Linked DNA regions of Homo sapiens. The protein of the gene in region 4 purifies or fractionates together with the protein of the main gene of each other region. This does not show direct contact. Each region holds a gene or a part of one and is shown on either strand. Other genes may lie near its edges.

What was found.
Region 1: the proteins of CSTA (region 4) and ARMC9 purify together in Homo sapiens (co-immunoprecipitation; one large-scale study listed by IntAct). This does not show direct contact.
Region 2: the proteins of CSTA (region 4) and HRNR purify together in Homo sapiens (affinity purification with mass spectrometry; one large-scale study listed by BioGRID and IntAct). This does not show direct contact.
Region 3: the proteins of CSTA (region 4) and POC5 purify together in Homo sapiens (co-immunoprecipitation; one large-scale study listed by IntAct). This does not show direct contact.
Region 5: the proteins of CSTA (region 4) and TGFBRAP1 purify together in Homo sapiens (affinity purification with mass spectrometry; one large-scale study listed by BioGRID and IntAct). This does not show direct contact.
Region 6: the proteins of CSTA (region 4) and ODF2 purify together in Homo sapiens (co-immunoprecipitation; one large-scale study listed by IntAct). This does not show direct contact.
Region 7: the proteins of CSTA (region 4) and CTSC purify together in Homo sapiens (affinity purification with mass spectrometry; one large-scale study listed by BioGRID and IntAct). This does not show direct contact.

The regions. Positions count from the first base shown.
Region 1 is NC_000002.12:231,372,835-231,376,821, forward strand, and holds part of ARMC9 (lisH domain-containing protein ARMC9), read left to right. Parts: 3' UTR 1-3,987. UniProt on the Homo sapiens protein: Involved in ciliogenesis. It is required for appropriate acetylation and polyglutamylation of ciliary microtubules, and regulation of cilium length. Acts as a positive regulator of hedgehog (Hh)signaling.
Region 2 is NC_000001.11:152,213,939-152,217,925, reverse strand, and holds part of HRNR (hornerin), read left to right. Parts: coding exon 1-3,987. UniProt on the Homo sapiens protein: Component of the epidermal cornified cell envelopes.
Region 3 is NC_000005.10:75,710,623-75,714,609, reverse strand, and holds part of POC5 (centrosomal protein POC5), read left to right. Parts: intron 1-1,658; 5' UTR 1,659-1,672; coding exon 1,673-1,756; intron 1,757-1,949; exon of another isoform or gene 1,950-2,003; intron 2,004-2,177; exon of another isoform or gene 2,178-2,225; coding exon of another isoform or gene 2,226-2,234; intron 2,235-3,987. UniProt on the Homo sapiens protein: Essential for the assembly of the distal half of centrioles, required for centriole elongation. Acts as a negative regulator of centriole elongation.
Region 4 is NC_000003.12:122,338,367-122,342,353, forward strand, and holds the end of CSTA (cystatin-A), read left to right. Parts: intron 1-3,072; coding exon 3,073-3,201; 3' UTR 3,202-3,603; downstream 3,604-3,987. UniProt on the Homo sapiens protein: This is an intracellular thiol proteinase inhibitor. Has an important role in desmosome-mediated cell-cell adhesion in the lower levels of the epidermis.
Region 5 is NC_000002.12:105,270,537-105,274,523, forward strand, and holds part of TGFBRAP1 (transforming growth factor-beta receptor-associated protein 1), read right to left. Parts: intron 3,155-3,987; coding exon 3,008-3,154; intron 2,479-3,007; coding exon 2,319-2,478; intron 1-2,318. UniProt on the Homo sapiens protein: Plays a role in the TGF-beta/activin signaling pathway. It associates with inactive heteromeric TGF-beta and activin receptor complexes, mainly through the type II receptor, and is released upon activation of signaling.
Region 6 is NC_000009.12:128,458,745-128,462,731, reverse strand, and holds part of ODF2 (outer dense fiber protein 2), read right to left. Parts: intron 3,166-3,987; coding exon 3,075-3,165; intron 2,575-3,074; exon of another isoform or gene 2,433-2,574; intron 2,220-2,432; exon of another isoform or gene 2,183-2,219; coding exon 2,066-2,182; intron 1,791-2,065; coding exon 1,665-1,790; intron 1-1,664. UniProt on the Homo sapiens protein: Seems to be a major component of sperm tail outer dense fibers (ODF).
Region 7 is NC_000011.10:88,302,843-88,306,829, reverse strand, and holds part of CTSC (dipeptidyl peptidase 1 isoform a preproprotein), read left to right. Parts: intron 1-3,987. UniProt on the Homo sapiens protein: Thiol protease. Has dipeptidylpeptidase activity. Active against a broad range of dipeptide substrates composed of both polar and hydrophobic amino acids. Proline cannot occupy the P1 position and arginine cannot occupy the P2 position of the substrate.

The DNA.
Region 1 (3,987 bases), on a different chromosome or scaffold from region 4:
CAATGGGGACATCTCTGGTCCCAATGGTCGTAAATAAAGGCTAAGCGCTGGATTTTTCCATGGCCCCCTGACTCCTCAGGAGCGCAGGCAGAGGAGGTAAACAGGAGGCCAGGTTACCCATGAGATGACCAGAAGCTCATCCAGGGCCGGGACCCTGGTTCATCTCGTGAATTCTTGGCAGCGGCTCCAGGCTGGGCACATTAGATGCTGTCATGTGACTGGCCTGGTGGCCACCTCTTGGTTCTCTGGAAATGTGTCCACTCTGTGCTCAGGGAAGAAGGCTGCCGTCCTGACCTGTCAGCCACCAGGCCCTCTCTGAACTCCTCACTTGACCCGGAGGCATTGGGAGCAAACACAAAGCTCGCCCCTGGTGTCAGTGGTGCAGACAGAGGAAAAGCAGAGGGTCCGCAAAATGCAACTCCTCCGTGGTGAGACTTTGAAAAGGTGTAGAGTGGTTGCAGACAAACAGCAAAGGAGTGGAATGGAAAAATCTCTCTTGCTCCCCACAAGAAGTCCACTCCCCTACGGATTCCTCAGATGCCACTGGCTGGCACAGCCTTTCCCGCCCTTGGTGTGGGAGCAGCAGAAGTCCAGCGGGGGTGGGAGAATCATCGGGGTCAGGTCAGTGTCTCCCTCGTCTGAAGTCAACCACTACTTTTCCCTCAAGCCTACCAAAGAGCTAAAGTCTGATCTGTAGATGTCTGATGGTTTGAGGAGAAGAAAAGATAGTCTTTTAGAGAAGTGGGGAGTATCCAACTTAGGGTCAAAATACACTGAGATTAGGCCGGGCACAGTGGCTCACACCTGTAATCCCAGTGCTTTGGGAGGCCGAGGCGGATGGATCACTTGAGGCCTCCAGGAGTTCGAGACCAGCCTGGCCAACATGGCGAAACCCCGTCTCTACTAAAATACAAAAAATTAGCTGGATGTGGTGGTGGGTGCCTGTAATCTCAGCTACTCAAGGAGGCTGAGGCACAAGAATAGCTTGAACCGGGAGATGGAAGATGCAGTGAGCCAAGATCACGCCCCTGCACTCCAGCCTGGGCGACAGAGACTCCGTCAAAAAAAAAAAAAAAATACATTGAGATTACCAGGTGGGGTATGTGTGGTTCTTCCAGGAAAGTGCTGAAAATATCACCCAGGCCTCTGCGCCACGCCCTGGGAGAGTACACTCCTGGGCTCACGCCTCTGCATTCCAAGGCTGACAGCTAGAAATATACTTTGTAAAATACCAACAACTTATTCACAAATATTCCAACTATCTACCAGCTCCAATGAGCTTGCTGAGGATGGGTATGACCCCAGTCTAAGGGGAAAGAATCTAAAACACAAGTAAACCTGTTTAAAGGCCAGATCTCCAGATGGAGATCCAAGCAGATGGCGCCTAAGGTTTGCCCTTGAAAACTACCAAGGAAGCCACAGAGAGGGATCTTTGGACCTTCTGGAAAATGGTAAGGCCCCAGGTAGATTATGGCTCCTCTGCCCTGGAGGCTGAGCCGCCCCTCTGGTTACCTCACATCTTCTGGTTTCTTCTGAGTGGGACTTGATCTCATTTCTGCATTCACAGCAAGGTGGAACTGTCTGGCAAGAGCTTAAATTAGGACCTGTGGTGGGGACTTTAATAGGCAGGTGGAGGTTTGAGATCCAGTGAGATGCCAGAGATTAGTCAATAGGTGAGGAAAGATTTGGCCCAAATCAAAAGAGCTAAAAAAAAAATAATAAAATAAAAATAAAAATAAAATAGTTGAACAAATAAGGTTCATGAAAAAAAAAGAAAAGAAAGAAAAGGTAAAGAAAAGAAATCCATGATAAAATATCAAACTTTTTAATAAAAACAAGTCTGGCCCTGTACTTGGATGACCCCACCTGGCTTGTCTAACCCTAATCCCAGCCCCAGTTTTAATAAAACTGTATTTACAAAATAGGCAGCTGGGACGTGGACCAGAGATACCAATTTGATTTTTTTTAAATATTACATTAAAATATTACATCATGTGTCTTCATTACTGAGTTTTGGGGTAGCCCTTTAAATTTTGTATGCAAGGTGAATACCTCACCCCTCTCTCCTGGCCTAGAATCTGGGGGATCCTCCTGTCCCTCCCACAGTGCCTGATAGCACAGCCTGGGGCTGGTGGTGTGCCTGTTTGCCTAGCTTTATCTCTCCAGATACTATTTGGGGTGTGCTGTTCTAAGAAGTGATTAGGTTAGCTTTTGCATATTAACAAACTACCTCTGAAACTTAGTGGCTTAAACCAACAAATGTATTAGCTTTATAATGATTTGGATCAGTGATGGGGGCTGGGCACGGACAGGCGATTCTTCTGCTGGGCTTGGCTGAACTCAACTATGTCTTATGGTCAGAGGGCAGTCAGGGGCTTCGCTCATGTCTGGTAGTTGGCTGTTGGCTGAGCCCTTGGTTCTCCTCTGGCTTAGGCTTGTTCACATGGTGGCCTCGGGGCTCCCATGGCAGTTAGAGAAATCAAGCCCAAGTCTCATATCACGTTCACTATTCTCCCATTGTCCAAAGCAGACCACATGGCCAAGGCCCAAGTCTGTGTGAAAGGATGTGGATACAGGGACCCCGAATGAACCAGAGGCAATACTGCTGCAAGCTACCACATAGATGCTGTTCAGAGCTTTGCAGGACCAAATCTTTTAGGGCTGTTTTTCCATTGTGGTATACCCTCTCCATTTAGATTCAATTGAACAAATATATTCTTTGGGGCTGCAGTGTGTCAGATGTGGAGACATGGTCCCACTGGCTTTCAAGTTGCCATCCATCTTCTAGGGAGAATTTCTGGCCTTTTCGGATGGCATGGTCCAGGCCGGAGCACCAGCCCCAGGTTGAAACATCAGGCAGGTTTCTAGGAAATGGTTGCAAAATTAGCAAAAAGTCAGGGCTACAGAGCCCTATCCAGAGTCGTCATCTTAAGGTGTCTACTAAAGCCTGGGGGTGGATGGGATCTCAGAAGGGGGACTAGAGAAATAGGAAACTGGGGACAGAACCCGGGGGTGAGAAAGAAGACAGCAGGTGTTGTGGGAAGTCAGGGACCCCAAACGGAGGGACTGGCTGAAGCCATGACAGAAGAACGTGGATTGTGATGATTTCATGGACATTTATTAGTTCCCCCAAATTAATACTTTTGTAATTTCTTATGCCTGTCTTTACTACAGTCTCTAAACATAAGTTGTGAATATTTCATGGACACTTATCACTTCCCCAGTCAATACCCTTGTGATTTCCTATGCCTGTCTTTACTTTAATCTCTTAATCCTGTCAGCTGAGGGGGATGTATGTTGCCTCAGGACCCTGTAATAATTGCATTAACTGCACAAATTGTACAGCATGTGTGTTTGCGCAATATGAAATCTGAGCACCTTGAAAAAAGAACAGGGTAACAGCAATTGTTCAGGGAATAAGAGAGATAACCTTAAACTCTGACCACTGGTGAGTCGGGCGGAACAGAGCCATATTTCTCTTCTTTCAAAAGCAAATGGGAGAAATATCGCTGAATTCTTTTTCTCAGCATGGAACATCCCCTGAGAAAGAGAATGCACACCTGGGGGTGGGTCTCTGAACTGGCCCCCCTCCCCCGGGGGCGTGGTCGTCTCTTATGGTCGAGGCTGCAGAGATGAAATAAACTCCAGTCTCCCATAGCGCTCCCAGGCTTATTAGGAGGAGGAAATTCCCGCCTAATAAATTTTGGTCAGACCGGTTGCTCTCAAACCCTGTCTCCTGATAAGATGTTATCAATGACAATGGTGCCCAAAACTTCATTAGCAATTTTAATTTTGCCTTGGTCCTGTGGTCCTGTGATCTCGCCCTGCCTCCACTTGCCTTGTGATATTCTATTACCCTGTTAAGTACTTGATGTCTGTCACCCACACCTATTCGCACACTCCCTCCCCTTTTGAAAATCCCTAATAAAAACTTGCTGGTTTTTGTGGCTTGTGGGGCATCACGGATCCTACCAACGTGTGATGTCT
Region 2 (3,987 bases), on a different chromosome or scaffold from region 4:
AAGGGTCTGGATCTGGCCATTCCCCTAGCCGCGGCCGACATGGGTCCGGTTTGGGGCACTCCTCCAGCCACGGCCAACATGGGTCTGGCTCAGGTCGTTCTTCCAGCCGTGGCCCATATGAGTCTCGCTCGGGTCACTCTTCTGTCTTTGGTCAACATGAGTCTGGCTCAGGACATTCCTCTGCTTACAGTCAGCATGGTAGTGGCTCAGGGCACTTCTGTAGCCAAGGACAGCATGGTTCTACATCAGGACAGTCATCAACCTTTGACCAGGAGGGATCTAGCACAGGCCAGTCTTCCAGCTATGGCCACCGTGGCTCTGGCTCCAGTCAGTCTTCTGGCTATGGCCGACATGGGGCTGGATCTGGCCAGTCTCCTAGTCGCGGCCGACATGGGTCCGGTTCTGGGCACTCTTCCAGCTACGGCCAACATGGGTCTGGCTCCGGTTGGTCTTCCAGCAGTGGCCGACATGGGTCTGGCTCAGGTCAGTCTTCTGGATTTGGTCACCACGAGTCTAGCTCATGGCAGTCCTCTGGTTGCACTCAGCATGGATCTGGCTCAGGTCACTCCTCCAGCTACGAACAACACGGCTCTAGGTCAGGACAGTCATCTAGGGGTGAACGACACGGATCTAGCTCAGGTTCATCTTCCAGCTATGGTCAGCATGGGTCTGGCTCCCGTCAGTCTTTGGGCCACGGCCAACATGGGTCTGGATCTGGCCAGTCTCCTAGCCCTAGCCGTGGCCGACATGGGTCTGGTTCTGGGCAGTCTTCCAGCTACAGCCCATATGGGTCTGGCTCAGGGTGGTCTTCCAGCCGTGGCCCATATGAGTCTGGCTCCAGTCACTCTTCTGGCTTAGGTCACCGAGAGTCTCGCTCAGGACAGTCCTCTGGCTACGGTCAACATGGATCTAGCTCAGGTCATTCCTCTACCCATGGGCAACATGGTTCTACATCAGGACAGTCATCGAGCTGTGGCCAACATGGAGCTAGCTCAGGTCAGTCTTCCAGCCACGGTCAGCATGGCTCTGGCTCAAGTCAGTCTTCTGGCTATGGCCGACAGGGCTCTGGATCTGGCCAGTCTCCAGGCCACGGCCAGCGTGGGTCTGGGTCAAGGCAGTCTCCCAGCTACGGCCGACATGGGTCTGGCTCCGGTCGGTCTTCCAGCAGTGGCCAACATGGGTCTGGCTTAGGCGAGTCTTCTGGCTTTGGTCACCACGAGTCTAGCTCAGGGCAGTCCTCTAGTTACAGTCAGCATGGGTCTGGCTCAGGTCACTCCTCTGGCTACGGACAACACGGCTCTAGATCAGGACAGTCATCTAGGGGTGAACGACACGGATCTAGCTCACGTTCGTCTTCCCGCTATGGTCAGCATGGGTCTGGCTCCCGTCAGTCTTCGGGCCACGGCCGACAAGGGTCTGGATCTGGCCAGTCCCCTAGCCGCGGCCGACATGGGTCCGGTTTGGGGCACTCCTCCAGCCACGGCCAACATGGGTCTGGCTCAGGTCGTTCTTCCAGCCGTGGCCCATATGAGTCTCGCTCGGGTCACTCTTCTGTCTTTGGTCAACATGAGTCTGGCTCAGGACATTCCTCTGCTTACAGTCAGCATGGTAGTGGCTCAGGGCACTTCTGTAGCCAAGGACAGCATGGTTCTACATCAGGACAGTCATCAACCTTTGACCAGGAGGGATCTAGCACAGGTCAGTCTTCCAGCCACGGTCAGCATGGCTCTGGCTCAAGTCAGTCTTCTAGCTATGGCCAACAGGGCTCTGGATCTGGCCAGTCTCCTAGTCGCGGCCGACATGGGTCCGGTTCCGGGCACTCTTCCAGCTACGGCCAACATGGGTCTGGCTCCGGTTGGTCTTCCAGCAGTGGCCGACATGGGTCTGGCTCAGGTCAGTCTTCTGGATTTGGTCACCATGAGTCTAGCTCATGGCAGTCCTCTGGTTACACTCAGCATGGATCTGGCTCAGGTCACTCCTCCAGCTACGAACAACACGGCTCTAGGTCAGGACAGTCATCTAGGGGTGAACAACACGGATCTAGCTCAGGTTCATCTTCCAGCTATGGTCAGCATGGGTCTGGCTCCCGTCAGTCTTTGGGCCACGGCCAACATGGGTCTGGATCTGGCCAGTCTCCTAGCCCTAGCCGTGGCCGACATGGGTCTGGTTCTGGGCAGTCTTCCAGCTACGGCCCATATGGGTCTGGCTCAGGGTGGTCTTCCAGCCGTGGCCCATATGAGTCTGGCTCCGGTCACTCTTCTGGCTTAGGTCACCGAGAGTCTCGCTCAGGACAGTCCTCTGGCTACGGTCAACATGGATCTAGCTCAGGTCATTCCTCTACCCATGGGCAACATGGTTCTGCATCAGGACAGTCATCGAGCTGTGGCCAACATGGAGCTAGCTCAGGTCAGTCTTCCAGCCACGGTCAGCATGGCTCTGGCTCAAGTCAGTCTTCTGGCTATGGCCGACAGGGCTCTGGATCTGGCCAGTCTCCAGGCCACGGCCAGCGTGGGTCTGGGTCAAGGCAGTCTCCCAGCTATGGCCGACATGGGTCTGGCTCCGGTCGGTCTTCCAGCAGTGGCCAACATGGGCCTGGCTTAGGCGAGTCTTCTGGCTTTGGTCACCACGAGTCTAGCTCAGGGCAGTCCTCTAGTTACAGTCAGCATGGGTCTGGCTCAGGTCACTCCTCTGGCTACGGACAACACGGCTCTAGATCAGGACAGTCATCTAGGGGTGAACGACACGGATCTAGCTCAGGTTCGTCTTCCCGCTATGGTCAGCATGGGTCTGGCTCCCGTCAGTCTTCGGGCCACGGCCGACAAGGGTCTGGATCTGGCCATTCCCCTAGCCGCGGCCGACATGGGTCCGGTTCGGGGCACTCCTCCAGCCACGGCCAACATGGGTCTGGCTCAGGTCGTTCTTCCAGCCGTGGCCCATATGAGTCTCGCTCGGGTCACTCTTCTGTCTTTGGTCAACATGAGTCTGGCTCAGGACATTCCTCTGCTTACAGTCAGCATGGTAGTGGCTCAGGGCACTTCTGTAGCCAAGGACAGCATGGTTCTACATCAGGACAGTCATCAACCTTTGACCAGGAGGGATCTAGCACAGGTCAGTCTTCCAGCCACGGTCAGCATGGCTCTGGCTCAAGTCAGTCTTCTAGCTATGGCCAACAGGGCTCTGGATCTGGCCAGTCTCCTAGTCGCGGCCGACATGGGTCCGGTTCCGGGCACTCTTCCAGCTACGGCCAACATGGGTCTGGCTCCGGTTGGTCTTCCAGCAGTGGCCGACATGGGTCTGGCTCAGGTCAGTCTTCTGGATTTGGTCACCACGAGTCTAGCTCATGGCAGTCCTCTGGTTACACTCAGCATGGATCTGGCTCAGGTCACTCCTCCAGCTACGAACAACACGGCTCTAGGTCAGGACAGTCATCTAGGGGTGAACGACACGGATCTAGCTCAGGTTCATCTTCCAGCTATGGTCAGCATGGGTCTGGCTCCCGTCAGTCTTTGGGCCACGGCCAACATGGGTCTGGATCTGGCCAGTCTCCTAGCCCTAGCCGTGGCCGACATGGGTCTGGTTCTGGGCAGTCTTCCAGCTACAGCCCATATGGGTCTGGCTCAGGGTGGTCTTCCAGCCGTGGCCCATATGAGTCTGGCTCCGGTCACTCTTCTGGCTTAGGTCACCGAGAGTCTCGCTCAGGACAGTCCTCTGGCTACGGTCAACATGGATCTAGCTCAGGTCATTCCTCTACCCATGGGCAACATGGTTCTACATCAGGACAGTCATCGAGCTGTGGCCAACATGGAGCTAGCTCAGGTCAGTCTTCCAGCCACGGTCAGCATGGCTCTGGCTCAAGTCAGTCTTCTGGCTATGGCCGACAGGGCTCTGGATCTGGCCAGTCTCCAGGCCACGGCCAGCGTGGGTCTGGGTCAAGGCAGTCTCCCAGCTACGGCCGACATGGGTCTGGCTCCGGTCGGTCTTCCAGCA
Region 3 (3,987 bases), on a different chromosome or scaffold from region 4:
CGGAGATCTGGAAGCCACCAACAGTTCTTTTTAACCCCTTGATCTATTATTGATCATTTTCTCTTTCCATCACCATAACACAACTGTCTTGTAGTCATACCCTCCATCCCCTTCCCATTGCTACTTCCTAGACTTAGGTCATCATTTATCTTCTTAATTACTATCAAAGAGAACATTTATCTCTTAGACTACTGCAGTCAGCTCTCAATTGATCTCTCTCTCTTTTTTTTTTGAGACGGAGTCTCTGTCACCCAGGCTGGAGTGCAGTGGTGCGATCTTGGCTCACTGCAGCCTCCACCCCCAGGGTTCTAGCTATTCTCCTGCCTCAGCCTCCCAAGTAGCTGGGATTACAGGCACCTGCCACCAGGCTCGGCTAATTGTTTTGTATTTTTAATAGAGACAGGGTTTCGCCATGTTGGCCAGGCTGGTCTCAAACTCCTGACCTCAGGTGATCCACCTACCTCAGCCTCCCAAAGTGCTAGGATTACAGGCATGATTCACTGCACCCAGCCTGATCTCTCTTAATATCCAAATTCATCCTCAACGCTGCTGGAATGATCTTTCTGATCATGTAACTTTTAAAAAATATTTCAATAACTTGTCTAGAATAAACACCCAGATTTTTAATATGACAAGTTTTGACCTTCCATGATCTGGCTGCTCCTTACTTTTTGTTTCATCCTTAGCCAATCCTTTGCACCCATTGCTTTGTCCTTACCAAACTGCTTGCTGTTCGTGGCATACATGTCCATGGCTCTGTCTTTGCTTATATTGCTCTACTGCCTAGAATATCTACACCTGTGTTTATACCTTTTATCCATCTTTCAGGATGAGACCTACTCATCTTTCAGATCTCAACACCTGGGTCATCTTCTCTAAAAACTTTCTGTGCCTCCTTTCCTGCTTATTTACAGTCATGCAATCTTACCCCATGAAAAATAGCTACTCCTATCTCTCTACTTTGTATCTGTTATTTTAGGGCCTATCAGCAGTTTATTCATCAGTCGGTCACTTATATAATATACATGCCTGGCCCTCTCTACAGATTGTAAACTCCTTAAGAATGAGGACTTCATTTTACATTCCTCACCAATGTCTTACATATTACTGGTATTCAGATAGTTCGAATAGTCACTATTTGTTCTTTGAATAATTCGGTTACTTGTTACTAAAAGTACTTTTAATGATTTTTTGATTAGGACTTTCAACAAATTCTCTATGCATATATTTGATTCTGTTGTTCTGTATAAGCTCACTTTTCTTAAAATAATATTTCCAAAGGTAAGTTTCCCAAGAAGGGAATTTGCACAAATTGTTTGTTCTCTCTTGGTTCTGTGTCTTAGAGGAAAGTACACAGCACCCAGGTTGTCACACATTGCTCAAGAACAGTGATCACAATCTATTATGCTCAACAGGCCCCGCTGGGGATTTTTCTGAAGACCTGACTACGTTATAAACTCACTAATATTGGGACTGGGTCTTCAACTGTTTTTTGCCCAGTGATTTTTTGCCTGTAGGTACTCAATATGTTGAATGAATGATTTTAGCATATCACAGGAAGATTGCAGATTTGGATACTGTTGCACTTATATATATCTGGAAAGGATTTTATCTTAAATATCAAGGAAAAAAGCTAAAGTTAGCTTCTACTGTTTTAGAGCATTTGTGCAGAATGTCATCAGATGAGGAGAAATACTCACTTCCAGTTGTGCAAAATGACTCCAGTCGAGGCAGTTCTGTCTCTTCGAATCTTCAGGTAGGAAAAAATTTCTAAATTTACCATGACTTTTTTTATTTTAAACAAATGAATGTAAGGGAAAACTAGGATTTTTTAATAATTTTTTCATCCATTTACAAGGGAGTTTTTCAATTTATAATAATATCAAACTTCAGGAATTACTGTACACATTTTAGGAGTGACTTTACATTGTTTTAACTTTTCAGAAAATATTGATGAACTCTTCATACACTCTGTACAAAGGCTTCAACCAACACAGTAAGAGGTGAAACAAATGTTCAAGAAACATTTTTTTGTTTAAATTTTTTTCATTTTAGCTACCTCTCATGAATGCTACTTTCACTTTTAATGCAAATTAATACAATATCAAACCATCCAAAGTTCTAGAGCTCAAGATTCCCTTGTGTTCTACTTGCTGAGGTTTGGTCTCTGTTGTCACAACATTCAGTACAATCTGCTGCCCAGGACCTGGACATTGACAGATAAAATGAAGTGGGTCAGTTAACTACAGAGGGTGTGGTATTTACATGAAATGTTTTAAATTTCTCTTATTTCTAAATATTTCATCATCAAAAATATGGATTTAGATTTCTGGAGTAGATTTTAAATATGAGAATAATGACATGGTATATCTTAAATTTTACAGTTGTATTACTCAAGGGGAAAGGCTGTTTATGCCTAAGCATATGAAATTGTTATTGATTCTGTACGATATGAGAAAAGCTTTAGGAAAATATTTTATGAAACAAATTTGTTCCTTTAATCGAAATTATGGATTTCAAAATGGGGAAGGTATTGGGAAAATATCTGAATATTTACAGGATAAAACTAGTCTGGAGTTGTGGCAGAGCTTTTGCACCCTAGCCTTCCCTTTTGATGGTACCTGTCCCATGTAGTCCTCTCTTCAGGTGACAGTACTTCCTCCACCCTTCATCGCTGTCTGATTGAAACTTGAAGATAGAACTGATTAACTCATTTATACTAAAATGTAAACACCTTGTGAGCTCTCAAATTTCATTTCGTGAAGAGATAAAGCTTTAAATCAAAAGAATAACTCTCTAGAGTGGAATTTTAGAGAGACGGAAGAAGAACCTGCCAGAAATTATTTTGTGTTATTGTTTACCCACCTATAATGTAAGCTCAACTGAGAGTCTATTACTGTCAACTAATGTTCCTACTGGTTCTTGGACTGAAGTTGAAAGCCTCTCCATATTCCCTGTACATACAGTGTTATTACTTTGGGTTTCACTACTGGAAGCACTTCAAAATATAAATACAAAAAAAAATCTTAAAAATAACATAAAATACACATTTTTACATATGTAGTAAATATGTAAATCCAAACATTTAATACAAAAGCCCCTCATAAATAAATATTCCTCTTAAGGAACTTTTTTGTTACTCTCTTTTTATGCGAATGCTTCATAAGCCAGAAGGTGGTAAATGCTGAGGGATGGGCAGCATCCATAGTGCTTATACACTGAAAATTTCCTCTAACCACAGCTCCTATCAGCCAAGTTGCTCTGACTCTAATGGTTGAGGCATGGGTGGAGCTATATTTCAGGGTCATATCAATTCAGCTCTTGGGGGTTGGGGAGGGGGGCAAAATTACAAGTTTTGAATGTTAACAGAGGTTATGTTTGGCAATTAAGAAAGCCAATATTGTTTATTTTGATTCTTAATTTTAAATTTTATTTTTAAATAACTTATTTGGCTTGTGTCTACATATATGAAACTCTAAAATAGTCATTTAAATAACTGATTTTTTCTAAATGTTTTCTTGAAATAAGTTGGAATATATGGTCATGGAATACTATTGACATATACTTATTTATTTCCCCTTTAAGCCATAGCAATTGTGGTAAAATATATGAAATATATGAATATGTATGAAGTATATGATTTGAAATATGTGTTTGGATCTTTTTTTTCCTTCTCTTATCCAGAGCAGAAGTCAGACTAGGGAAGCCACAAGTGAAAGCCACTGACTTCCACTTCTCCCTCCGTTCCTACATGCTAGAGGTGGTGATAGGCTAACTCTGAGTAGAGCTGACTTGGCTAAATCTAGTTGCAACTGACACCACAGCAGGAACACTATAAAAAGTTTATGAACCTCACAATATAAGATCACCATCATATTAATCTGCTCAGGCTACCATAACAAAGTACCATAAATTCATAGGCTTAAACAACAGACATTTATCTTCTCACAGTTCTGGAGGCTAGAAGTCCCAGATCACAGCCCAAAA
Region 4 (3,987 bases):
TAAAAATAAAAACAAATATTCAAGTATATTTACTTAATCTTTACTTCACTATTTGACCAGGGCACAGTGTGGCTTATTTCTCTTTAACAAATATTTCTATTAAAATATAAACATTTTAAAAGATTTTTTCAGCAAAAAAAAAAAAAAAAGTAAGTGAAGTAAGTGGAGCTAGTCAGCTCAGCATAAGAAAGTTTCAGTACAGAGCTATGTACACAGATCAGCCCTGTTCTGCCAAATGTGAGCTCCTAGTAACGACCAGGTCCCGGGGAGACACATGTGAAAGAGGACCCTGCTGTATCCTCAGAAAACAATGGCACCATTTCCTCCATTCTCAATCTGCTTTCTTCATGGCTGGAAAAGAAAGTTTTCCAGTTAAAAATGATTATGTGCAAAGATAGGAAACATTCCATCAACATTAACATATTTAATAATTTATGATTAATTCAAATGCATAAATTTCACATATTACCAGCTCACATGTTTCTTCAACAGTTCATCAGATAACTATCTTGAAAATTTCTGCTTGAAAATTTGTTCCCTTGACCACCCTTTTGCCCTCTCTTAATCAGTCTCCTCTCTCTCTCTCATCTTTTCTTCCTTCTGCTATCAAACTTTTCCTACTGGATCTCAGCCACCGATCCCAGTTCCCTTTTACTTCCTGGTAGTCTGGCTGTTGATCCCTTTGCTCTGAGGCACTCTAGATTTAAGGTCTTGCCAGTGATGTGACCTTCTCTATGTATTTCAAGTACCTATCAAGAGGTAGGTGGTAGAATGGAAGGACCACAAGCTTAGGTGTCAGAGTGTCCTGGGTTTGAACCCTTGTTCAATTTGTTCTATGGGAAGCTCCTCCTCCTCTCTGAGCCTTCATTCCCTTATCTGCACAATGAGGGTAATAATCTACTTCGCAGCGTGTTGTGAGGAATAAATAAGCTGGAAATTTATTGAGCACTTATAATTCACTATGCACTATTCTAAGAACAGGGCTTATCTCATTTAATCCTCACAACAAATCTATGAGATAAGTACAATCACTTCTCTTGGGTTACCAACGAAAAAACTGAGTTCCAGGGTGGTGAAGAAACTAAAAAGATCACACAACTACAAGAGCAGAGTCAGGATTTGAACCCAGATAGACTGAGCTTAACTACTGGCTGTGCTGCCTCTAATATAAAGCACAAAATAAGAGCTTTTACAAGGTTACACTGGCCTGGTGTGGTGGCTTATACCTGTAATCCGAACACTTTGGGAGGCCAAGGTGGGAGGATAGCTTGAAGCCAGGAGTTTGAGATCATTCTGGGCAACATAGCAAGACCCTGCCTCTACAAAGAAAATGTTTTAATTACCTAGGCATGGTGATGCACACCAGTAGTCCTAGCTACTTGGGAAGCTGAGGTAGGAGGATCACTTGAGCCGAGGAGTTTGAGGTTGCAGTGAGCTGCGATCGCACCACTGCACTGTGAGCCAGGCCTCATTCCCCGATCAGTACCCCCCAAAAATGTTACATTGTAGAGTGAAAAGAATGTAGATGCTAGAGGCTAACAGATCTGGGTTTGAATATTGGCTGTGCCACTGACTAGCTGAGAGATTTATGGAAAATCACTTAATCTCTCCTACTCTGCTTCCACGTCTGTAAAAATTTCATTGCTCCACTTTTCTTCAGGCCTATAATATAGGTTAATATAATCATTTATATAAAATGTTCATCATAGTGTCTGGCTCACAGTAAACATTTGATATATGGCATTTGTTAAAATTAGGATAGGAAGTGACATCAGAAGCACAATAAATATTTGTATAAGACAAAGCATTTATTGTCTCCAGCAAGAACCAAAGTAAAAATTCTTACCATAATTTTCCAGGTCTCAGATTCATGTCCAAACTACTGCTTCTGCTTCAACCTTCCTACCAATGACTTCCTAGTAAAACCCCTTAGCTTTTTTTTTTCTTTTCTTTTTTGAGACGGAGTTTCACTCTGTCACTCAGGCTGGAGTGCAGTGGCACAATCTCGGCTCTCTGCGACCTCCACCTCCCGGATTCAAGCGATTCTCCTGCTTCAGCCTCCCAAGTAGCTGGGATTACAGATGTGCACCACCACACCCAGCTAATTTTGTATTTTTAGTAGAGACCAGATTTCACCATGTTGGCCAGGTTTGTCTCAAACTCCTGACCTCAGGTGATCCACCCACCTTGGCCTCCCAAAGTGCTGGGATTATAGGCGTGAGCCACAGTGCCCGGCTGGCCCCTTCACTTTAGAAGGGAGGGTGTCCGCCCCCTGGGCTCTGCTCAATCCTACCAGTGGGTGTTTATAAAGTAGGTTCTGATATAGGTATGGGAACCCTGCATCCCAAATTTTCTAGGGCAATTCTGATTTTCTTCTCCCTTATCAGACTGTATGGCAAACAAAGTGTCCCAAGTTGAGAGTCAGAAAACAGTATCACCAAAAATATAGGCTATCACTTGTTTTCTTGCTCCATGCATCTTTGAAAATAAAATGCTGTCCTTTGTGCCCAGATTATACTAAAAAAAATAACAAAATAAACCTAGGACCTATGCCTCTTGCCATGCCATTAGTCTACAATTTTTTTTTTTTTTTAAGACAAACTCTTGCTCTATCACCCAGGCTGGAGTACAGTGGCATGATCTCGGCTCACTGCAACCTTCTCCTCCTGGGTTCAAGTGATTCTCCTGCCTCAGCCTCTAGAGTAGCTGGGATTACAGGCATGCACCACCATGCCCGGCTAATTTTTTGTATTTTTAGTAGAGACGGGATTTCACCATGCTGGCCAGGCTTGTCTTGAACTCCTGACCTCGTGATCCCCCTGCCTCAGCCTCCCAAAGTGCTAGGATTACAGGTGGGAGCCACGGCACCCAGCCTAGTCTGCTCTTTTTCTCCTAAAATAAGGTGGTGGATTTATGAATACAAAGAGTCTAAGAATGGTGGACTAGGTCTAGCAATGCTGTTCCTCAGCAGCTTTTTGGACAGAAGTCTTTGTAGACCTGTGGCTCTCTCACTTGATGTAGACCCATTTGAATGAATCTCCTTTTGCTTTCTCTTTCTTTAATATTTTTCAGGTACGAGCAGGTGATAATAAATATATGCACTTGAAAGTATTCAAAAGTCTTCCCGGACAAAATGAGGACTTGGTACTTACTGGATACCAGGTTGACAAAAACAAGGATGACGAGCTGACGGGCTTTTAGCAGCATGTACCCAAAGTGTTCTGATTCCTTCAACTGGCTACTGAGTCATGATCCTTGCTGATAAATATAACCATCAATAAAGAAGCATTCTTTTCCAAAGAAATTATTTCTTCAATTATTTCTCATTTATTGTATTAAGCAGAAATTACCTTTTCTTTCTCAAAATCAGTGTTATTGCTTTAGAGTATAAACTCCATATAAATTGATGGCAATTGGAAATCTTATAAAAACTAGTCAAGCCTAATGCAACTGGCTAAAGGATAGTACCACCCTCACCCCCACCATAGGCAGGCTGGATCGTGGACTATCAATTCACCAGCCTCCTTGTTCCCTGTGGCTGCTGATAACCCAACATTCCATCTCTACCCTCATACTTCAAAATTAAATCAAGTATTTTACAAAGTGTGTGTGTGTGTGTGTGTGTGTATATATATACTTTTTTTTTTTTTTTTTTTTTGAGACAGAGTCTCGTTCTGTCACCCAGGCTAGAGTGCAATGGTGTGATCTCGGCTCACTGCAACCTCCACCTCCCAGGTTTAAGCGATTCTCCCATCTCAGCCTCCCAAGTAGCTGGGATTACAGGCACCTACCACTGCGCCTAGCTAATTTTTGTATTTTTAGTAGAGACAGGGTTTTGCCATGTTGGCCAGGCTGGTTTCGAACTCCTGACCCTAGGTGATCTGCTCGCCTTGGCTTCCCAAAGTGCTGGGATTACAGGTGTGAGCCACCTTGCCCAGTCTATATTTTTATTCTGAAACAAACTTAAACATAGAGAAAAGTTGCAAA
Region 5 (3,987 bases), on a different chromosome or scaffold from region 4:
CTCTTCCTACTGTGAAGAAATATTATGAGGACAACCCCTAGTTTAGGGTCAAGACTAATAATCAAATTATAGGCATTTGAATCTTGGCTGTCGCTTAGGCCTGAAGAACATGGCAGACATTGCTACCTGTGTAGCCAAGGGCTGGCCCTGCAAGGTACATCCCTTATAGCACTAGACACAGAAGCCACAATACGCAACGCCTTCATCCTCACAGTGGAAGGCCAACAAATAATTACTAAGTGGCTGCCATAGTTAAGACCCTGGGTGAGGTACAAAGACAGTTAAGAAAAGATCACTGTGGTGATTTACACTTCCACATCTATCATCTCATTTATATTTGACTCCCACAGCCACCCCGAGTGGATAGGTTGGGCTGGAATCGTTTTTACAACTTCCCTAGACTGACATTTCCCCAAGTCATCTAACTAAGAAGGGATACAAAATCAGTGTTTGGATTTCCAGTGCTCCTCCCACAGTGCTGCGGGGGATACCCCCATTGCCTGAAAGCTCCCCTGTGCTACCTGCAAGCCCAGGCTTATACCTAATGACTGCTCATATAGGGCCTCTTCCGGGAGGCTGCCTCTGACCCCTCCACCCCAAGGCACAGCTCGTGGGTTCCTCGGCCCTTCTAGAACTGTACCTGCCCTTAACTGCATTCCAATTAAACTCTGAGTCTCTGAGGACCAGGACCAAGTCTCATCCATCTTTGTATCCTCAATGCACAGTGACACACTCTACATACTCAGAAAAGCTGGCGGAATGCAAACATTGAACCACACACTTGTGGCTGGCCTGAGAGTTTTATAAGGAGATTTGTAAAGCAAAAAGAATAAGTCAGGAGTGAGTAAAAATTCAATAGCTGGGACACCCTGGCACTGATCAGTCAGGGACGGTGGCTGTGAGTGAACAGAGATTGCACAGCGGATCGCCACAGAAAGTCCTAATGTAGGTGCAGGTACAAGCCAGAACTAGTGTTTGCTGGTTTCATGAAATACCAACCCACACCTGTGTTCTGGCTCTACTGCTCGTGGGCTGTGTGACCTGTGGCAAGCGGGGTAACCTCTCTGGGCTTCAGTGCACTCTTCTGTAAAAATGGAGGAAAAACAGGCCTCACTTCACAGGGTTGTTGTGGAAACTGTGTCATAAGGCAGCCTCAGCGTTTCAACCTATGCTGGGCATATCTAGTCAATCCTCATTATTTGTGGATTCTGTATTTACAAAGTCATCTACTCGCTGAAATTTATTTGTAACCTCCCAATCAACACTCGCAGCAGCTTCAAGGTCATTTACGACAAGCACAGAGCCTGATGCAGAGCTGAGGCCAAAGAAGGAGCGCCCTCCTTCCTTGCTTCAGCTGTCGTACTAGCTACACGTTTCCTTTTCACGGGCTATTTATTGCCATGCTTTTTTGCATTTTGGTGCTTCTTGTTGGTGATTTCAGTGTAGTGCTGAAGTGCTGCCTAGCGCTCCTAAGCTCTGGAAGGTTGTGATGTGCTTTATGGAGACAACACGTGTGTTAGATATGCTTTGTTATTGGTCAAAAAATGGTATTAAAGGCCATTAAAGAAAAACACATCACTAACCCCAGTGAGTATAAATGCAGAAATTCTTAATGTGGCAAGAAACTAGTTAATTCTACCAGTTGCAAGCACCATGCTGCGCTGTGGAACTTTACACAATACAGAAACTGTGGCCTCTGTACCCCTGAGGAACAGAAACCCAAATGCCCTCCAAGACACCTGCATAACCTTCTTGCTTAGAGCTCGAGGGACCTGAGCCTTGAGCAGCTCGGGAATGGGTCGCTGGGGGCAGTGCCTACTGCAAAGCCTTGATCAGAGACTGAAGCCGTCAGAGGGAACTATGACTCAGTGCTTTGACATTGAATAAAGACACTGTGTGTCAAGAGACACACAGACGTCTAAAGTCTACCAGGGCAGCACCAACATCATCAATCAAAGGGCACCGTCCATCTAGAGGCACGGTCCATCTCTAGAGGCACGAGAAGCCTTATTTCTCCCTGCAAGGAGGCTGACTCTGTCAAAAGAGGCTCAAGGGCTGAGTGTGGTGGCTCACGCCTATAATCCCAGCACCTTAGGAGGCAGAAGCAGGAAGATCACTTGAGGCCATGAGTTTGAGACCAGCCTGGGTGACAAAGCGACACCCTGTCTTCATTTAAAAAAATCTTTTTAAAAAAAGAGGCTCAAAGAATCACCCTGTGCAATCAACCAGCAGCTGTGCCAAAGCCCTTCTCTCTGCTTCCTCCCACCCGCTTGATATGAGTTTTTTCCAAAGGGAGACAATACTGAGATCATCCTCACCGAGAAGAAAGTGGACTCGGTATAAATCAGATTTCTGGAGCAGCCGCCGCAGCTTGGCCTGCGTCTCGGTGGCCTCTGCACCCTTGCCACTGGCGGAGGCCCTCTGCAGCAGCACCTCTTCCAGGTACAGCACAGCTAAGTGGGTGTGATACTCTTCTTTCTGCAGGAAACAGGGGGAGCCAAGCAGACAGACAGTGTTTTCAAGTGGGAAAGTCAAAGCTCTCCCCTGTCAGCCAGGGCTTGGAGACCGCGGCTGCACTGACATGAGCTGGGCAGATGCTCACTTGCTGGATCGAAACCCTCTCAGAAACCATGATACTGAGATGAGTTTACCATCTATGGGGAATAGAACAAAATGTCACCTCTTATTTCAAGAAGTAAGGGCCACAGAATTTAGATAACCTACAAAAAGGTATAGCTCCCTTTATTTCCTTTAAGGATAATAACAAAGAAGGAAAAGAGAGGAAAAATAAAAGCTGAGTGGGTGTGAGACGGACGGAGAAAAAAATAAAGCTACCTATTGCTCCAGGTCTCTTTCCGCAAGCCTCAAGGCCGCCATCAGACCATCAACAAGTACGGATGGATCACCCAGGGAACAGACATTACACAGAATCACATGCCAAAAAGTGTTCTAGTTCAATTCCGTCTCTCCAGCCCACACTCTTTAGTCTAACTTCTGCAGTGCTCACCTGCAGTCTCTTGTCTATCACAAGATGTTCCAGATACTTCACAAGGGCTTTAGGGTATTTTTTAAGGCAATTGATAATGTCGTCTGGATTAAAACTGTTCTTCTGCTGTTCATCCAAAGGTCTCTTGGTGAAAACCTGAACTCCGACCTGAAAGAGGAGCGACAATACAGTGACTGTGCTTCCCAAACCCACCTTTCCTTTAACTTTATTTTGGTCATTGCACATTCAAGCTTTGGATAAAATCATCACTTAAAATATGATTAAATTATTATGTATGCACAGCTTTTTGTATGTCAATCATATCTCAATACAGTGGCTTAAAAAATATAATTATGGAGAAAAACAGCCCAGCATGAAGCACTGTCAAAGGCCAGAGGGCAAAAAATCAAGATAGAAAAGCCAGCCTATACCCTGAAGTCCTCCTCACACACCCCATGCAAATTGGAAACTGAAGAACAAAGCATTTACTGGTGACAGATTTTGACAACCTATAATAATAACATTAAGATCATCCAAGAACAGGGATAGCCAGTTGCAGAACAGTATGTGAAAAGATATCAAAAGTGCTGAAATTTCTGTACAGTAAACTCACTTCTCTGAACATGGATTATCTACTCTGGGTTATTTATGATAGATGGTTAATCTGAGATCTGAGCTTCCAGTCCCTGAGTAAGTTTCCGGGCTGCCTTCCTGTGTCCATCAAGTGGAGGCACTGGTCCAATCCTCTGGTTCAAGGAAAGGACAGTGAGGCAGGCAGGAAAGCAGCTCTCCACTGCACCTCCCCTGAGCACTTACATGTGGGAGGTTCTATCATGTGCACGCACACACGCACCTCCCCCCTCCAAGGCCAATACATTCACGTATCATGTATTATGGTATGAATTTTGGATTCTATAAGCCTGGATTTGTGTCCCAGCTCTACCAACTATAGCCTCAGTTTCCTCATCTGTAGCTAATGCCCACTGAGGGGCTGCTATGAT
Region 6 (3,987 bases), on a different chromosome or scaffold from region 4:
GCTACTCGGGAGGCTGAGGCAGAAGAATGGTGTGAACCCGGGAGGCGGAGCTTGCAGTGGGCCGAGATTGCACCACTGCACTCCAGCCTGGGTGACAGAGCGAGACTCCGTCTCAAAAAAAAAAAAACAAAAAAACAAAATCCCTGTACTCTTCTATGATGTTTTTAGGACAACTTCCTAGACGAAAAATTACAGAATCAATGTTTAGACAAGTCCTGCCAAACTGACTCCAGAACAGCTGAATCAGGTTCACAGTCCTATAAAAAACGTTTTAAAAGATTCGGGCCGGGTGTGGTGGCTCACACCTGTAATCCCAGCACTTTGGGAGGCTGAGGTGGGCTGATCACCTGAGGTCGGGAGTTCGAGACCAGCCTGACCAACATGGACAAACCCTATCTCTACTAAAAATACAAAACTAGCCGGGATGGTGGTGCATGCCTGTAATCCTAGCTACTCAGCAGGCTGAGGCAGGAGAATCGCTTGACCCAGGAGGCGGAGGTTGTGGTGAGCCAAGATCGCGCCACTGCACTCCAGCCTGGGCAAGGGCAACAAGAGCGAAACTCCATTTCGGAAAAAAAAAAAAAAGATTCATTGATATCCCATATGCTTGCTGGCAGGAGATAGTTGTCATTTTTTAAACTTTTTCCATTCAAGAAAAAAGCTCATTGTTTTTGTTTTAAAAAAAATATACTGTGGCTTTTAATTTACATTTCACTGATTATTAGTGAAGTATATGTAGTAAAAAATGTAAGGCAGCAGTCTAATTTCAATCCTTTTAATTTATTGTACTGGTCAGAGCAGTTTCCATTTAATCCTAAGAAAGCCCCATACTCCCTTTGTCTCTAAGGGAAAGGAGTCTCCTTTGTCTGGTAAATCAAGGAGTCAGTTTTGACATAGTTTTATGAGGTATGACTATAAACTTCAAGGAGTTACTTTTGTTTTTCATTTCTATTTTTTTTTCTTTTCACTGCTGGTATGAAAGATTTCTAATGTAATAAACTATAAGAAAAATAGGCTGGCTGTGGTGGCTCACGCCTGTAATCCCAACACCTTGGGAGGCCGAGGCGGGCGGATCACCTGAGGTCAGGAGTTCGAGACCAGCCTGGCCAACACGATGAAACCCCATCTCTACTAAAAATTTAAAAATCAGACGTAAGTGGTGGCGGGCGCCTGTAGTCCCAGCTACTAGGGAGGCTGAGGCTGGAGAATCACTTGAACCTGGGAGGCAGAGGTTGCAATGAGCCAAGATCATGCCACTGCACTCCAGCCTGGGCGACAGAGCAAGGCTCTGTCTCAAAAAGAAAAGAAAAGAAAAGAAAATACATGTGATGTGGCTCCTCACAAGCAAAGCAGAGAGGCTAAGAGTACTGCCTCTAGAATGAATCTTAACTCCAGCTCTGCTAACTTCTCTGTGACTCTGGGAAAATCACTTCTCTCTGAGGTCTGGTTCCTCATCTCTGCCTTTGGACAGCAGGACTTCCCACACAGCAGTATCATAAGAACTCAAGAAGATTCACATAGTTTCAGGGTTTAGCAAGGCCCTCAGTAAATGGGGTCTGTTAGGACATTCCAGTAGCTATAGCTGACCCTGAATCATACCGAGGCTGAGGCCTGCTAGGATCTGAGCAGTCCGAGAAGAAAAGCCTGGGCAAGGGTGAGCCTACCTCCCACTTGCATCCCACAGGCCGGGCAGATGATTTTCCAGGGGGCATCCAAGGTACCTTGGTTTTCACCCGGACACTCCGCCGCACATTCACAGTGTCCCCTTTCATTCCTCGCTTGTGAGATTTCTGTGGAAAGGGACAAACCCAGGGTCACTTCCACACCCAGCTGGCCACGGTGCCACGCTAGTGACATCCCTCTCCGACTAGCAGAGTGCCTCTTCTGACTAATGTTACTGCTGTTGCTCCTGGATGACAGGCCTGCCTACCTTCTAACCAGGAAACCGGCCTCCGAAAGAGTGTGTTTGTCTCCCAAACCTTTGGAGTCAGAGTGCGAGGAGGCTGGGCTTAGCAGGATCACCCAGATCCACAGCTACTACCTCGCCCCACTGGCATGCTCCTACCTGGCTGCTGGTCGCTGATGGTTTCGGGAGTTTTTTTATGTGGACGTGGACAGGGGTGTTCTCATCCACGTGAACATGTAAGGGGGGAGTTGAAGAGCGGTCCTTCATGGTTGGCTTCTGGCAGGTGGGGGAGGACAACACAAAAATGGTTGATCTGTGGATGAGTAAACTGGGCATAAAAACAGAGCTCACAGCCTCTGGGGGCCACCAAAAAGCCTAGCCACCAAGCGAGCAGGACAGCTACCAACTACTGGCATGCAGGCAGGGAGTAAGGCGGGAGTATCATTCAGCAGGCTCCTGCAGAGATCCCAGCAGAAGACCACAAGGGAGATTCTGGTCCACTCAAGAGAGGGTCTGCAAGACCCACCCGTTCCAGAACAGATCCCAGACGCCGGCCCCAGGGTTCTTAGGGCTGGATCTCCTCTAAACCTGCTGGAATGCACAGCTCCTCCTTGGATTTAGTGAAGCACAGCGGAAAGCAGGCGGATCCTTCTACACAGTGATCTCAACTGGGCATGCAGATTGGCGTGGGAAACACACAAAATGCTCAGGGTGCAGAATAAATCAGAGAGCAGGCAGATCAAAGAACAGGAAAACAGAAAGCTGAAGGAAATCCTAAGGATGAGAAGGCTGTCTAGATTCTAAAGAAAACATGAGCAAGGCAGAACCACAGCTACAAACCCCTCAACCACCACCAGCTCTTATCCTTCCCCTCATTCTTTAAACTTTTTTTTTCTCTTCTTTTTCTTTTCCTTTATTTTAAAAATCTCAAGATTTTAGGATTTGGCTGGAAGAATAAGTCTAAGACAATTTCCTCACACCCGGCAGCCTCACCACAGGCAAAAATGATGATCATAATTAAAAATCAGCAGAGTATGTATAACAGCACCTAGCAGAGCAACTGGGCGGCGATGGTGCCCAGCAGGGTAAGGCACCTCCTAGAAACGGTGTGCAAAAGCATTTTTAGCAAGGTGACCAAAGAGGGCTGCTACGTGAGTGCATCACCTACCGTCACAGTTACACTGGGTGCGCCACAAGGTGCTCTCAAGACCTTTTTCTGCGTGAGACTCGTTACTCCGTTCTTCCCACACGATGGAAACCTGCACCCAGGCACAAGAACCAGATTGTAAGCAGAAAACTAGGGCAATCTTATATTTCAGATCTCATGAAATTACACACTGACTACGGTAGCTAACATGTTCATGGCTAGGAAAACCAGCCTGGAATTCCTTGACTCCCCTGAGATGAGCACCAGATGTGCGTGGTGTGCCCAGCAGTGGGATGGAAATAGGGTGACAGGCATTTGCAGGCTGGACTTTTAACATATCGTCACATCACATGTATTATGACCCTTGCTGAAAAGCCTAGCTGACATCCTGTCAGATGACAAAAAGCAAGCAGCACATGAACAGAAGCCAATGTGCTGGTTTGGCCAAGGGTAGAAGCACCCAGGACAGTGCCTGGAGCAGAGGCGGCCCTGGAGAAAGATGCAGTGAGTGAGTGACAAAAATAGAGCATTAGTGGCCACAAGCCATGTCTCATGCCTGTAATCCCAGCACTTTTGGAGGCCAAGGCAGGCAGATTGCTTGAGCCCAGGAGTTTGAGACCAGCCTGGGCAACATGGCAAGACCCCATCTCTACAAAACATACAAAAATTAGCTTGGCGTGGTGGCGTGTGTCTGTAGTCCCAGCTACTCGGGAGGCTGAGGTGGGAGAATCAATTAAGCCTGGGAGGTGGAGGCTGCAGTGAGCCGTAACCACGCCACTGCACTCCAGCCTAGGTGGCAGAGGGAGACCCCGTTTCAAAACAACAACAAAAAAGAAAAAAAAATTTTTTCAAAGAGCATTAGGCTCAGGCACGAGAGGTCACTGTGACGCACACTCATCAAATTAAGGCTCAAATATTCCCCTAAGAGAATAAA
Region 7 (3,987 bases), on a different chromosome or scaffold from region 4:
AGATGGCTTGTGTTAATCAGGTCATTAGACCCCATGCCTTATTGCAAGGGCAGGGGTCCAATGTGACAGCCTAAGTTCTTGCTCAGTGTACCAGAAGAATTGGATCACACGTGGGCTGGAAGGATGAGCACAAGGTTTTATTGAGTGGTGGAGGTGGCTCTCCGCGAGACGACTCTCAGCCAGAGAAGGAGGATGGAGGGGAAAGGTGTTCTTCCCCTGGAGTCCACTTGTTCCTGTTCTCCTCTGGGTTCAAATACCTCTTCCCTCCTTTTCTGCTGTGCTGTCCCACCACTCTCCACAGCTCTGTGCCGCTCTGTTCCTCTGCTCCTCTGGATGTTCAGCTCCTTGTATCTGTGCCTGCTAAGATTTTGGGTTTATATGGGGGAAGGATGGGGGGCATGGCGGGCCAAAAGGCACCTTTTTTGGTGTGAAAACAGAAATGCCTGTCTTCTCTTAGGGCCTTAGGTCTTCAGGCTTGAGGGTGGGGCCTTTGCTGAGGGACCACCCTCTTCTACCCAGTATTTCCCTGTCTCCTGTCCATATCAACATTACTAACTTTTTCATCTGCAGACTAATAATGCTAAGGTGTGGCATTTTTCAACTGTGAGACTATGTGAAGGTTTTTCCTGTCCAACTGATGGCATCCTCCCATAATTCTACCCCTTTCTTAAAAGAATCTTTTGCAGTATTTCTCCAAGTTTATTCTAGAGAATTTCTTGTCTGTGAAATGCTCTAGTTAATCAAAATTGGAAAACGGAGCATATCATATCCCCTTCTCAAATTCACCAAAGTGAAGTCCTAATGTGTCTTAATGTATCTGCATGAGACAGGAAGCTGAGATCTATTCAACAACAAAAATCCAAACAAGCATCAAGAGGAGGAGTGTTAGCACTTGAGCCTAGGGAGACTGTGGCTCCTGCCTGAAAGATGGGAGCCTCAGTCACAGCTGCTTTACCAAGTGTCATATGCTATGTTTCTGAGGACTCCTGCTAAAGCTCCCTTCTCCCTCCAGCCAACCACTTTTGTTTTAGACAAGGGCTGGGTTTATGAAGGACTGTTTTCATGACTAAAGCTTTATAGAAGGTTTAAGATAAGGAGATGGAATTGAGTGAAGTAGGAAATATGAAAGCAGATATTATAATCTGGCTTCCTGATTTTTCACTAGCATTTTTGTTTATAAATTAGTTCTGTTCTAAGAATCCAATGACGTAATAGAAACTCTCAAAGATTCTTAACTTGAGATATAGGGAGTCTTTGAAACTGCTGAAATTACAGACAGCATTTATTGTTTATGAGCATTTCTGAATCTAGAGCTTTCACTAGATTTGTAAAGAATGTGGGCCAAAAGATTAAGAGCCAATCCTGTATCTTGTACTCAAAATGTTTGTAATTCTCACCTTTTTATCCCCCAGACTCCTCTTGCTCTCTCTTCATTTTCACAGTGTTACTGGAAAGGGGTCCTGATCCAGACCCCAAGAGAGGGCTCTTGGATCTTGTGCAAGAAAGAATTTAGGGCGAGTCCTCAATGCAAAGTGAAAGCAAGTTTATTAAGAAAGTAAAGGAATAAAAGAATGGCTACTCCATAGACAGAGCAGCCCTGAGGGCAGCTGGTTGTCCATTTTTATGGTTATTTCTTGATTGTATGCTAAACAAGGGATGGATTATTCATGCCTCCCCTTTTTAGACCATAGAGGGTAACTTCCTGACATTGTCATGGCATTCTTTTTTTTTTTTGACAGAGTCTCACTGTGTTGTCCAGGCTGGAGTGCGGTAAAGCAATCTTGGCTCACTGCAACCTCTGCCTCCTGGGTTTAAATGATTCTCCTGCCTCAGCCTCCCAAGTAGCTGGGATTACAGGCATGACCCACCATGCCCAGCCAATTTTTGTATTTTTAGTTGAAACAGGGTTTTGCCATGTTGGCCAGGCTGGTCTTGAACTCCTGACTTCAGGTGATCTGCCTACCTTGGCCTCCCAAAGTGCTGCAATTACAGATGTGAGCCACCAAACCTGGCCTGTCATGGCATTCTTAAACTGTCATGGTGCTGGTGGGAGTGTAGCAGTGAGGAAGACCAGAGGTCACTCTCATCGCCATCTTGGTTTTGGTGGGTTTTAGCTGGCTTCTTTACTGCAGCCTGTCTGTTCTATCAGCAAGGTCTTTATGACCTGAATCTTGTGCTGACCTCCTATCTCATTCTATGACTTAGAATGCCTTAACTGTCTGGGAATGCAGCCCAGTAGGTCTCAGCCTCATCTTACCCAGCTCCTATTCAAGATGGAGTTGCTCTGGGTCAAACACCTTTGACAACATCATTAAGCCTCAGTTCTCACACTGTTTTTGTTTTGTTTGTGTGTGCAATGATGGGCAAATCTCTGCCTTATAGGATGGTAGAAAAAAGGAACTTAATATTGTAATGACTGTTTTGTGCCAGATAATTGCTTTAAACTGTATCAGCATCTTATTTAGTCCTGTTAATGATATGAATGTTATCTTCATAACAGCTGCCATTTTATTAAGGACTTATCAGAGAAAAACACTGTTCTAAGCACTTGTTACCCATTATTACATTGAATTTTCATAACAACCCTTTGAGGTAAGCATGATTATACCCACTTTAATAGAAGTGAACTGTAGTTTTGTAATGTTAGGTTCCTTGCCAAATGTTACACAGATAGTAAGTGATAAAATCATATGCCCTGAAATTACATTATGCTGCCAAACTTAAATTTCTTTTTTATCCTTTATATTAGTATATTCTTAGGTTTAAACAAGACAACTAGTTAACACATACTAGATTTTGTCCACAGTTCCTGGCTCATAACTCCCATAGCCCTTGTCACTATCTTTTAACGTTGGGGCACATTAGGCCTCAGAAGTAGGCCTCAGAAAACAGAGTCTCTCTCTCTCTCTCTCTCTGATCTTCTTCCGCCCTCCTCTCACCTGCCCAGGGCAGCACTCTAATCTTCTCCTGCCTTTCTGATCTTGGGTCATAAGACCTTCATTTCCAAAGATGTCCTGTGTCATACCCTAAAGGAAGGAACACTGAACAGAGAGAGGCTCAGAAGAATCTGGACAGGCCTTGCTGTGTTTACATCATTCCCTTTATGTCCAGTCACATCTCTACATGGTTGTCAGTTGTGCCTATTTGATGAAGTCCCCATATAAGGCTCACAAGGACAGGGTGCAGAGAGCTTCCAGATAGCTGAACAAGTGGAAGTTCCTGGAGGGTGGCGTGTTCAGGGAGGGCATGGAAGCTGTGTGCCCCTTCCCCCATACCTTGCCCTACTCATTTCTTCATCTGTTTCATTTGTAGTATCTTTTATAATAAACCACTAAACATTAGTTAGTATTTCTCTGAGTTCTGTGAGTCACTCTAGCAAATTAATTGAACCCAAGGAGGGTGTCATAGGATCCCCACATTATAGCTGGTTGGCCAGAAGCACAGGTAAACAACCTAGGGCTTTCAATTGGCATGAGAAGTAGGGGGCAGTTTTGTGGGACGGAGCCCTCAGCCTGTGAGATCTGATGCCATCTCTAAGTACACAGTGTCAAAACTGGATTGGAGGACACCCAGCTAGTATTCACTGTGAAATTGGTTGCTTGCTTGATTTGTGGGGAAAAACCCACATGCATTTGATCACAGAAGTCTTTTGTGTTGACAGTTGATAGTGTTCAGTGAGAGAATTAAAAAAAAATTGAGTTTCTTCTTCAACATACTCTCTCAATGTGAAACCACAGAAACTATTTCCATTCAAAGATGGAAATGGTTTGTTTGCATCTTAGTTTTTATTTATACATCTTAGAAGAAATGTCCAAGCTTTGTTTTTTCTCTCACCCTATATATAAAATTACCTATGAGGCACAGATTTTTATGATCCTTGATTATATAGACTTTGTCCAAATTGTGTGTTTTATAGCATTACTGTAACTTGTTATAGTAATCTTTGTGTATATTATGTCTCTTAACATTGTCTTCCATATTGTTAAT